Linked DNA regions of Homo sapiens: region 1 is linked to region 2. The links come from fine-mapping of genetic effects on gene expression. A gene starts in region 2. The other region holds a variant in brackets. All regions are shown on one strand. Distances are from middle to middle.

Evidence for each region. PIP is the estimated chance that this variant, and not a neighbour inherited with it, causes the effect. A credible set is the group of variants that fine-mapping cannot tell apart.
Region 1: its variant is the best candidate, but not a certain one, in a credible set for the expression of RAB22A in skeletal muscle (GTEx, PIP 0.55).

What each region holds. Positions count from the first base shown.
Region 1 is chr20:58,365,176-58,370,552 of GRCh38, reverse strand. RAB22A (RAB22A, member RAS oncogene family) reads right to left here. Exons shown (of 7, transcript NM_020673.3): 7 at 3,046-5,377. Among named protein-coding and RNA genes, the nearest start is that of VAPB, 21 kb to the left of the region's middle. The variant C/T (reference allele first, on the strand shown) is at 3,089.
Region 2 is chr20:58,306,728-58,312,104 of GRCh38, reverse strand. It overlaps RAB22A (RAB22A, member RAS oncogene family), which reads right to left and starts at 2,390. Exons shown (of 7, transcript NM_020673.3): 1 at 2,093-2,390; 2 at 983-1,062. The coding sequence starts at 2,128. It also overlaps the pseudogene PPP4R1L. RefSeq lists silencers at 1,992-2,321, 2,362-2,921.

The DNA.
Region 1 (5,377 bases), 58 kb before region 2:
TGTGCTAATTTGTGTCTTCCTTTTTGGTGTAGTGATTCCCTTTTTCTTTTTTCTTTTTTTTTTTTGAGATGAAGTCTCGCTCTTGTCCCCAGGCTGGAGTGCAATGGTGCGATCTCGGCTCACTGCAACCTCCACCTCCTGGGTTCAAGCGATTCGTCTGCCTCAGCCTCCCAAGTAGCTGGGATTACAGGTGCCTGCCACCATGCCAGGCTAATTTTTTTTGTATTTTTAGTAGAGACGGGGTTTCACCATGTTGGCCAGGCTGGTCTCGAACTCCTGACCTCAGGTGATCCACCTGCCTCGGCCTCCCAAAGTGCTGGGATTACAGGCGTGAGCCACTGTGCCCGGCTGTGATTCCCTTTTTCTTGGCAACAACAAATGGGACTGGCTTCTGCCATAGTACTATCTTGACAGGGTGTAGACTAATATTCTCCTCTTTTTTCCCCAAGTGAGAGGCACCTGCATATTCTCCTTCTTAACGGGTATTATTTATGCTCCCTCTATCCCCTATTGTCCAAGAGGATTTAGGGCAGCTTGAAAAGATATGTATTAAATTTCAGAATGAAATGAAGCGGTGCTATAAAGTTTTGCACACTTGCCCCAAATCTGGCTCTAAGGTTTTTACTGACCAAATTGAATAGGGTGTGTGTGTGTGTTTAAAAGGAGAAAAATAAGACAAATTCAACTTCAGTGTATGTATTGAGCCAATTTTCACTAAGGATTTGAAGACAGGATTAGAGTGTGAGAGTTCCTGATTTTTTTTTTTCTAATAAGAAAAAATCCAGCCAGGCGCGGTGCCTCATACCTGTAATCCCAGCACTTTGGGAGGTCAAGGTGGGCGGATCACAAGGTCAGGAGATCGAGACCATCCTGGCTAACACAGTGAAACTTTATAATACAGTGAAACACTGTCTCTACTAAAAATACAAAAAATTAGCCAGGCATGGTGGCAGGCGCCTGTAGTCCCAGCTACTTGGGAGGCTGAGGCAGGAGAATGGCGTGAACCCGGGAGGCGGAGCTTGCAGTGAGCCACGATTGTGCCACTCCAGCCTGGGCGACAGAGCAAGACTCCGTCTCAAAAAAAAAAAATTCCACACATACTCAGGGTAAAAATTTTAAAAGTACAGAAGTACATATACAGGAGAAAGTGAAAACCAGGTGACAGTTCTGTGGGCCAAGCCTCTCTTCTCAGAGGTAAGTTCTGTTAACAGCTTGGACTGCAGATCTCCAGACTTTAAAAGCAGAAAATAATAATATCAAGTGTTAGCAAGGATGCTGTGCAACTAGAATTCTTGCACACTGCTGGGGGGAGCTATATTGATATTCCACTTTAGTTTTAGAGATGGACTTTTGCTCTTGTTGCCCAGACTGGAGTGCAACGGTGTGATCTCGGCTCACTGCAACCTCCGCCTCCCGGGTTCAAGTGTTTCTCCTGCCTCAGCCTCCCAAGTACCTGGGATTACAGGAACCTGGCACCATGCTTAGCTAATTTTTATATTTTTAGTAGAGTCGGGGTTTTGCCATGTTGGCCACGCTGGTCTCAAACTCCTGACCTCAAGTGATCTACCCACCTCGGCCTCCCAAAGTGTTGGGATTACAGGCATGAGCCACCATGCCCAGCTAAATACACCATTTTAGAAAACTATCTACAAAAGCAAAAACAAATACAGACATTGAGAATGTGTGTGTGTGTGTGTGTGTGTATTTCTCATGACCCAGTAATTCCACTCCCGGGCACATGCCCAAGAGAAACCTGTACAAGCCTTTACACCAGAGATGTATGTAAGGTTCACTGTGGTCCATTCATAATGGCAAAAATCTGGAAATAATCCAATGCCTATCAATATAGACTAGATAAATAAATGGTGGTTTATTCACATAGTGGAATCCTACATAGCAGTGAGAATGAATGAGAATACGACATACCATGTTGGATGAAAGAAGCCAGACCCATATGGAACCACATGGTATGTATATAAAGTTGAAACCAGACAAAACTCATCAGTGATGTTAGAGAAGGAGCACAAGGTGGGGCACCTGAGGTGTGGCAGATGTCCCACTTTGTGATCTGAGGGTTGGTTATGTGGGTAACCTTCGTGAAATTTAATTGAGCTGTACCCAAGATTCATGACATTTTTTGTAGGTTTTATACTTAAAAACATAGAAAAAACAAAACAGCAAACCAGCAGACTTATAGCAAAGTTATTTTAACTGAATCAGAAAGTGATTATCAGGGAGATGGCTTACAGAAATAAACCCTGTGAGATGTTTGTGCTTTGTTAATGCCGTGTTAAACGACAGCTACAGGCATCCCACCCGAACAGCCACATGGGATAAGCTCTTATTACCTTCCCTTTGTGAAGATAAAAGAAACACAGGTCAGAGAGGTTAAGGGCCTTGTCTAGGGCCACATAGCTTGGAAAGATGCTCTGATGAGACTCAAATCCAAGCCTGTTTGTCTCAAGCCCTCTCTGCTCTCTCTGGTTCCCTCACTTGAACTTGTAGGTACTCTTTGGCACACCTACACTGTACAGGCAAATGTGCTTCTACCTAAGAGGAACAGCAAAGAGAGCACGGGTGTGTGTGAGCCAGTGCTTCTGCTGGCAATGAAGAGTACTGGGGGTGCAGGGTTCAAGTCAACACTGGGATGGAAAGACTAGCATCTTTGATGAAATCCCCATAATAATGGAAGATGAGGGAAGACCTTTTCTTCCACAATCTAGGGCACTGCACCGTTCCTTTCTTCCAGGGGCAGCAAACTTCCCTCTAAGTGCTCACTGGTGGCCTTGCTGACCTGCTTCTAGAACCCCCATCTTAACTACTGAAGAGCAAGGAGAGGGAGGAGTTGTATAAGATAAGGATATGGGAAGCTGGGAAGCTTCAGATACCTTGGTACAAATAACTTGCTGCTCACCAGACACTACAGCTGTCAAAATTCTGGTACTTCAGTATCCAAAGGTCATTTAAAAATGACTTCAGAGTATTTGGTTAAGAAGAACATATGATGAGTAATATCACAAAGAGAAACCATTTGGGAGGCAAATATATATTTGTAAACATAGCATTTTATTAACAAAATGTTTACACC[C/T]TTCTTACAACAAAACAGTGATTTAGCATGTTATACTCTATAAAAGTGTATTATAGAATATTCAAGCTAAAACAATATTATTTAAAAGTATGGCAAATCAACTTTCATTTGCAAACTATCTACTATGAGCATAGGCATGAAAACAAAAATCTTACAACAAAAAACAAAAGGTCTAGTTTTCTTTTGTCAGCATCTATAAACAATACAGGCATCATATGGTTTACATACACTTAGGTCCAGCCCAAGGTTAAGACTGCAAAAATAAAGTCTTCAAACATCCACAGAAGCTTGGCAAACCACCACTGCAGCATTCCATGACAGGTAACCAGGCCATGTGTCATGCAGTAAGTCCAAGGCCATAAATTTGGGCTGTTTATAATAGTGCTACAAAGCGGCCAAAACTGTAAGCAACTGAATTTTACTTTCGTAATAGATGCTTTTATAAAAAGGCACAAATATCTTATTCCTTTCATCAGGTCTTGAGAAGGCATGACATTCTTAGGAGAAAGAGAGATTGCTGGTAGGACGGCTTAGCTTTTTTTTTTGAAAAATGTCTAGGCTCATTGCCATAGCTGTTTTTCTTCAAGACTTTTAATTTGGACTTTTACACGCTTAACAAATGCTTTATTACAAATTCAGCGAAGTTCTGACCACTTATGTTAACTATCTTATTACCAATGGTAAAACAAAACAAAACAAAAAACCAAAACCCATTTTGTTAACTGGCCGTGTTCCCACGGTAAGCGAGCGCTGCTATTCTCTTTCTGAAGCAGCGGAGTTCTTCACCTAACACTGGCCTCTGTGTTTCTTATTTTATTTGTTTTAATGCTCTGGCCGGTTTTTTTTTCTTTCAAAAATGTTAAATTAAGAGTTGTACATGTCTTTGAGGTGCCTATGATATTTTGATACCTGTATCGAATGTGTAATGGACTGAATGAGGGTAACTGGGATTTCCTTCACCTCGCTTATCTTTTCTTTGTGTTGGGAATATTCTTATTCTTCTAGCTGTTTTCAAATATACAATCAATTATTGTTAAATGCAGTCTCCCTACTGTAATATCGAATGCTGGAACTATTCCTTCTATCTAACTGTATTTCTGTGCCCACTAATCAACTTCTGTTCATCCCCAACCCCAGGCCTGCGCATTTCTGACTGTGCTTGTTAGAAAAGCCCCAGCTGGAGGGGGTGAGCAGTCCCTGTTGCTGTGACCACGGAAGGCCGCAGGGGAAGGCAGATTACATATGCGAAGGAGGTGTCTGTGGCCATGTGTCTTTAAGGGAGAGCCCACAGAAAAATGAGCCTAAGGGAAATAAAGCGAGAAGTCTGCTTCAATCACAGAGACGGTAAGGTGTAAATTCTTAAGAAGGTCAGAGGAATGATTGACAATTATGTGAGTGACTCACAAAGTGAAATGATGGAAAGACTGAACTGCATGAGAGTTAAAAAAAAAATCTTTTCCAGGGCAATAAAGCTCTGTCTACACAGCGTAACGAATGGTTTAAAAATAGGGCCACCACTCACGCCTGTAATCCCAGCACTTTGGGAGGCCGAGGCGGGCGGATCGTGAGGTCAGGAGTTCGAGACCAGCCTGATCAACACGGTGAAACCCTGTCTCTACTAAAAATACAAAAAATATTAGCCGGGTGTGGGGGCGGGCGCCTGTAATCCTAGCTATTCAGGTGGCTGAGGCAGGAGAATTGCTTGAACCTGGGAGGCGGAGGTTGCAGTGAGCCGAGATCGCGCCCTTACACTCCAGCCTGGGTGACAGAGCGAGACTCCGTCTCAAAAAAAAAAAGAAAAAAAAGCCACCCATCAGTTGCTCTGACTAGCCAGCTGCCGATTAATTCACCCTGTAAAGAACTGACCAGTCCCTCTGACATCACGTGTATGAGCCACGTTAAGACAGTTTCACAAACTCTAATGTCATAAGTTCATATACAAGGTAAGTGAATATAAACAAAGTCAGTGCTGGCTTCAAAATTTTTCAGGAGTAAAACTGATTATTCAAGTATAAACTTAATTAAAAATTAATGGCCAAATGATACTAGGATTAAGCCCCAAAGCAAAGTCAAGCACCACCATGGGCATGGGCACAGGGACTACTCATGCCAGTGGGCCCCACTCTACTTGGGTGGCCAGTGGCCTCTGAATTGGCCTAGAGGAAGAGGTATGCCCAGCTCTTCTACAAGATGACGTTAGATGCTGAGGGGTTTCCTTGACAATTTCAATTTTGGCCCTATGTGTGAAATGCTATTTTAAGGATGATTTCCTCCACAGTACTGCATTCA
Region 2 (5,377 bases):
GGGCGCCCATAATTCCAGCTACTCAGGAGGCTGAGGCAGGAGAATCGCTTGAACCCGGGAGGCAGAGGTTGCAGTGAGCCAAGATTGCGCCATTGCACCGCAGCCTGGGCAAAAAGAGCGAAACTCTGTCTCAAAAAAATCCATAAATAACCTCTGACAGCAGGAGCTCATAATTTCTCAGGGGACAATCTTATGGCAGTTTCTCTCCTGGGCTGTAAAATATTTCTCTATTAGTCAAAGAATGATCTGCATGGAGCACAAAGGCCAATTTTATCCTAATGATGGATAACATAGATTTTTTCTTTAAATGCTGGAAACCATTTGAGGGTTTGATGATTAAAACTAGAGCACAGCACCTATTTAGTTTTATAAGGTTAACATAATATTAAAGCCTATAAAACACAACTTCTTATGTAGTCAAAGGATTAGTATTGCAAAATGAAAAGTTTTCTTATAGCGTCAAAAACATATGAACAATCAACTTTACTTATCCATAGAACCAGAGAACTGAAAAAACCTTCCATTTCAATATGAATTTATTAATTTATTATTACTACCAGTACAGGAATGTGTAAGGGTTCAGATCTCAACCTACTACTTTCAGGAAGGACAAAAACCATTTAAATGTCTTTTACTTGATATGCCTGAAAGAATAGCACCAGGATCTATTTTCATCTGCCTTATTTCAAGGTGTAATTGCTGTTGATATTTATAGACCGAAGCTTCTGTGTCTGTTCTAATAATTAGTAGAACTCCAATTCATATTTGCATTTTGAAGTTCTCACCCCCAACAAGTCCGAAGATAATTTTCCTAAAATACACAGATCCTCACTGGACTCTTTCAAGTCCTTCCAGAGATGATGCGAACCAGCGACTCAGAATTCAATGACTACAAAGCGCAGGGCCTACACCTGTAACACACTATGTATTTGGAAGGATTTTCAATGCACCTTTAGATGTGTATCAAATAAAAGTCTCTTACCCTATTGTTGGGTTGATGTTTGGATCAAAACTGTCTTCCACAAACCGCCACACAATACTCGATTTACCTACACCTGTATCCTGAAAGAGAACGAGATGAGGGACTGAGAAAAAGTTTACCTTTTGGCAGACACCAAAAACTACTTTGTGGCATAAGTTCAGGATTTTAGAAAAATCACCCTAGACGTGTAAATTTTATAAACGGAGGAACACAAAAGCGGTTGTCATAAAAATTCAGTAGAGTAATTAGGAAATTCCAACTGTACTAAAAGGGAGAGGTTTTTGCCGTTAAGACAGATTAGGACCTTTTGAGAGACCCAAAGTTTCTGCTTCGTGTAAAAAGTAACAAGTCCACTTGCTTTTTAACATATGTTAGTAAACTTTGAACTCCTGAGTTACCTCTGAGTAATCCCTGATGAATCCTAGCCCCACCCTATTTGGGGGAATAAAGATTAGTTATTGGAGTTCCTGCCGATCTTTAAGGCAGAAACTCTGGAATGACAGCATCAATTTCAGAAAGAAGGCTTTGAAATGGCCAACACCTTGTCTTTCCTGACAAGACAGGAAGCTGAAGCTTCAAACTAGTCTTTGGGGCTTCCTGATTTGAACACCCCTTTTCTCCACAGGAAGAGTTACTTGGCAAAGTAACTCTTTGGACAAGTGGCAGGGGTATCCCACAAGTTCAAAAACACCCAAGAGACAAAGTAGGCTAATGCTGCTTGTAAAACCTAAAGACCTGTTATTGGTTTTACTTTGGAAGACTTGGCCAACTCCCAACTAATACCTTGGTAAGTTGGGAGAAAACTATTTAAGAACCTCTCTTAACCCAGATGCAATAGAGAGGCAAGGGGGGGCTGTTTGCTCTTTGTGGGGCGGGAAGAGTCCACGGGCTCCAGGGAGGGGAAGGGGAAGGGTCCCTTCGGCCTCCAGGACCTTTTCGAGAGTGCAAGAGGTGGGCGGGACGGCTCCCGAGCTGGAGGGAGGGTCCACGGGGCTGGCAGACAGCGTCTTGGACGTGGGAGGGGGGAAGGGATGAGGGGACAGGGGGGATCCGGGGTCCCCGCCAGCCCAGCCTCCCGTGGCCCTCCCGGCCGGACCCGCCGCCACTCACCCCGAGCAGACACACTTTGAGCTCCCTCAGCGCCATGGCCCGGGAGCCAGGGGCGCGGGCCCGCCGCCGCCCTAAGTTGAGAAGGGAGAGGCCAGGCCCAGCAAGAGCATCCCCTGGCGCCGCTGCCGCCGCACGGCCCAGCCCCGGTCCGCGCAGAGGCGGCTGCCGCCCGTCCTCCGGCCGTAGGTCCGGCCTGTCCGCTGCCAGCCGCGTGGGGCCCGCCTTAGCAGCCGGGACGCCGCCGCGGCCTTCCGGGAGCCGCCGCCGCCGCCATCTTGGGACGCCGGCCGCGTCACCTGACCTCCCCGCCCACCTCGGCAGCCACCTTCGCTGAGAGGGCGGGGCCGGCCGGCCGGCGCGGATCGGGGGCGGGGCCCGAAGCCGACGGCCCCGCCCCTGTCTGCAGGGCCCCGCCCCTGTCTGCAGGGCCCCGCCCCTGTCTGCAGGGCCCCGCCCCTGTCTGCAGGGCCCCGCCCCTGTCTGCAGGGCCCCGCCCCTGTCTGCAGGGCCCCGCCCCTGTCTGCAGGGCCCCGCCCCTGTCTGCAGGGCCCCGCCCCTGCCGGTCCCGCCTCCATGCCCATCCCAAGATGGCGGGTGAGTGGGGCTGGGCTCGGGGGATGCCAGGGGTGCCCCTCTCTCTCTCGCCCCGTGACCACCCCGCGAGGCCGAGGGGCCCCTGCCCGACCCCGTCCCCTCTCGCCGCAGCCCCCTGGTAACTTCTTGTGTGTTTCTTGGTTTTCAGAGATCCCCCTGTACTTTGTGGACTTGCAGGATGACTTAGACGACTGTAAGTAAGAGTTGGGGCACCCCTGTCCCTCCCTGGGACCCTCTCAAAGAATTCAGAGTGCACGAAGCGCGGGGCGGGGGAACCTCAAGCCAGGCACTCCTTGTCGGGACCAGAACAGCGGGACCCCCAACTGCCTAGATCCACTGGTGGCGGTCCCTCCTCCCTGGGCGGGGCGGGCTGAGGGTGGGAGCCCTTCCCTTCCCTCGGGGGAAGGATTTTTGTTGTTGGGGAAACTTTGGACTCCCTGTCACTTCTTTTCTTCCTGCGCCTGCAGCTGCCGTGGGATGGGCGGAGGGGGTAGTCCCAAGTCCTAGTCGACCCTGGGCGGGCGGGGGGTCCGCCACCTGGGAGGTGGGTGACTTCCCTCTCAGGGCCTTGCCCTTTTCCTAGGGACTTTTTAGGACTGCTGGGGGGTTTGGGAGGTCCCCCTCTCGGTGTGGCCGGTCACGGAGTTGCACGGACTTCTCAAGTGTCCTGGCCACAAGCCCGGCTCCATCTCTTATCCCATGGAGCCCATTGGCCCCCGCATTTCTTGGGTGGGACCCTTGTCCCTTCTTGCCCTCTTTTTTGGAATCATGTTAAGGGCTGGTAGCTGGGGGAGGTGTCATCTTAGAAATCCAAGTTCGCATTTCTGGTGAAGGAAGGAAGCGTTTTCTCTCCTGTCAAGAAACTTACTGAGCAGCTATTTGCTCTGGGGGCCACGTGTTGGGCTCCGAACCTGCAAGGATGTGTTGAAAACAGCTCTACACGCAGGGAGCTCACAGGGTGTGGGGAGAGCCTACTTGTAAACAGAAAATTACCGAGCACCGGAGTGCTTGCTGGTGAAGAAGCCCTATATAAATCATCCAAATAGCTAACATTAATTGGGGGCGTACTGTACGCCAGTCATATACAGTACTTCCTCTCATCTTTCATTCCACATCTTCAGGTTTCCTAATAGTAAGAGTTGGTGTTTACTGAAAACTTACCATGGACCAGACAGCGTTAAACTCTTTTTTTTTTTTTTTTTTTTTTGAGACGTAGTCTTGCTCTGTAGCCCAGGCTGGAGTACAGTGGCACGATCTCGGCTCACTGCAAGCTCCACCTCCTGGGTTCACGCCATTTTCCTGCCTCAGCCTCCCAAGTAGCTGGGACTATAGGCGCCCGCCACCACTCCCGGCTAATTTTTTGTATTTTTAGTAGAGAAGGGGTTTCACTCTGTTAGCCAGGATGGTCTCGATCTCCTGACCTCGTGATCCGCCCACCTCGGCCTCCCAAAGTGTTGGGATTACTGGCGTGAGCCACCACGCCCGGCCCAGTCTTAAACTCTTTACACACATTAACTCAGAAGGCGCAGTTTCGGCTGGGTGCGGTGGCTCAGGCCTGTAATCCCCGCACTTTGGGAGGCAGAGACGGGCAGATCACTTGAGTCCAGCCTGGCCAACATGGTGAAACCCTGTCTCTACTAAAAATACAAAAATTAGCCGGGCTTGGTGGCGCGCGTCTCTAATCTTAGCTGCCCGGGAGGCTGAGGCAGGAGAATTGCTTGAACCTGGGAGGCAGAGGTTGCAGTGAACGCCACTGCACTCCAGCCTGGGCGACAGAGTGACTCCGTCTCAAAAAAACAAAACAAAACAAAACAAACCAACAAGGGGCAGTTTTGTTAAAGTAGCATAACACTTTTGAAGGGGTAAAGCAAGCTGATAGTTAAGAGCCCGGTGTCTGTGGAATCAGATGGCCAAGAGTGAAATCCCGTATCACTGTTTACTGTCAGTGTGATCCCAGGCAAGTCGCTGTACCACTCTATGCCTCAGCGACCTCATCAGTAAAATGGGCATTATAGTGGCCCACCTCAAAAGGCTTTTATAAGGGATTAAATGAATAAAGGATTTAGCACAATGCCTAGTATGTAATAAACAGTTGGTAAATAATGGCTGCTGTTACCGTTATTCATGTGATCATTATTAGTAGTTATTTAACACTGTTGAGCCTGGTACAGTATAGATCCAGGTTTACCCAGCTGAATGTTTCAGCCGATGGGCATGCTCAGATTGAAGGAGTTGTATCATTTCCGTTGATACAACGGATAAACAATGTTTAGTTGCCATGATGGTGCTTGTCATTCATAGATGTGGTATTTGGTCTGACTGGAAAGCTATTTTCTAGCTGCTTCAGTTATCTAACCACCCCAAAACTCAATGGCTTAAACCAACAGCATTTGATTTCCCACAAATCTGTGAGTAGACTGGGTGGTGCTTCTGCTTAATGTGGTTTCAGTTGGGGAAGTCCGAAATGATGTCACTTATGTGGGTGGCATAGGTCCTGGCTGTTGGCCAGGACTTCAGTTCTCCGCGAGGTGCCCTTTCCACTTGGCTAGGTCAGCCTTCTCACAGTATAGTGGCCACAGGGTAGTTGCACCTCTTTTCTGACGGCTCCCCTCCTTCAGTCCTTTTTCACCTATGTATGTACAAAAAAGGAAGTAAGGAATTATATAGGAAAAAATTATGATCTTACTTTGG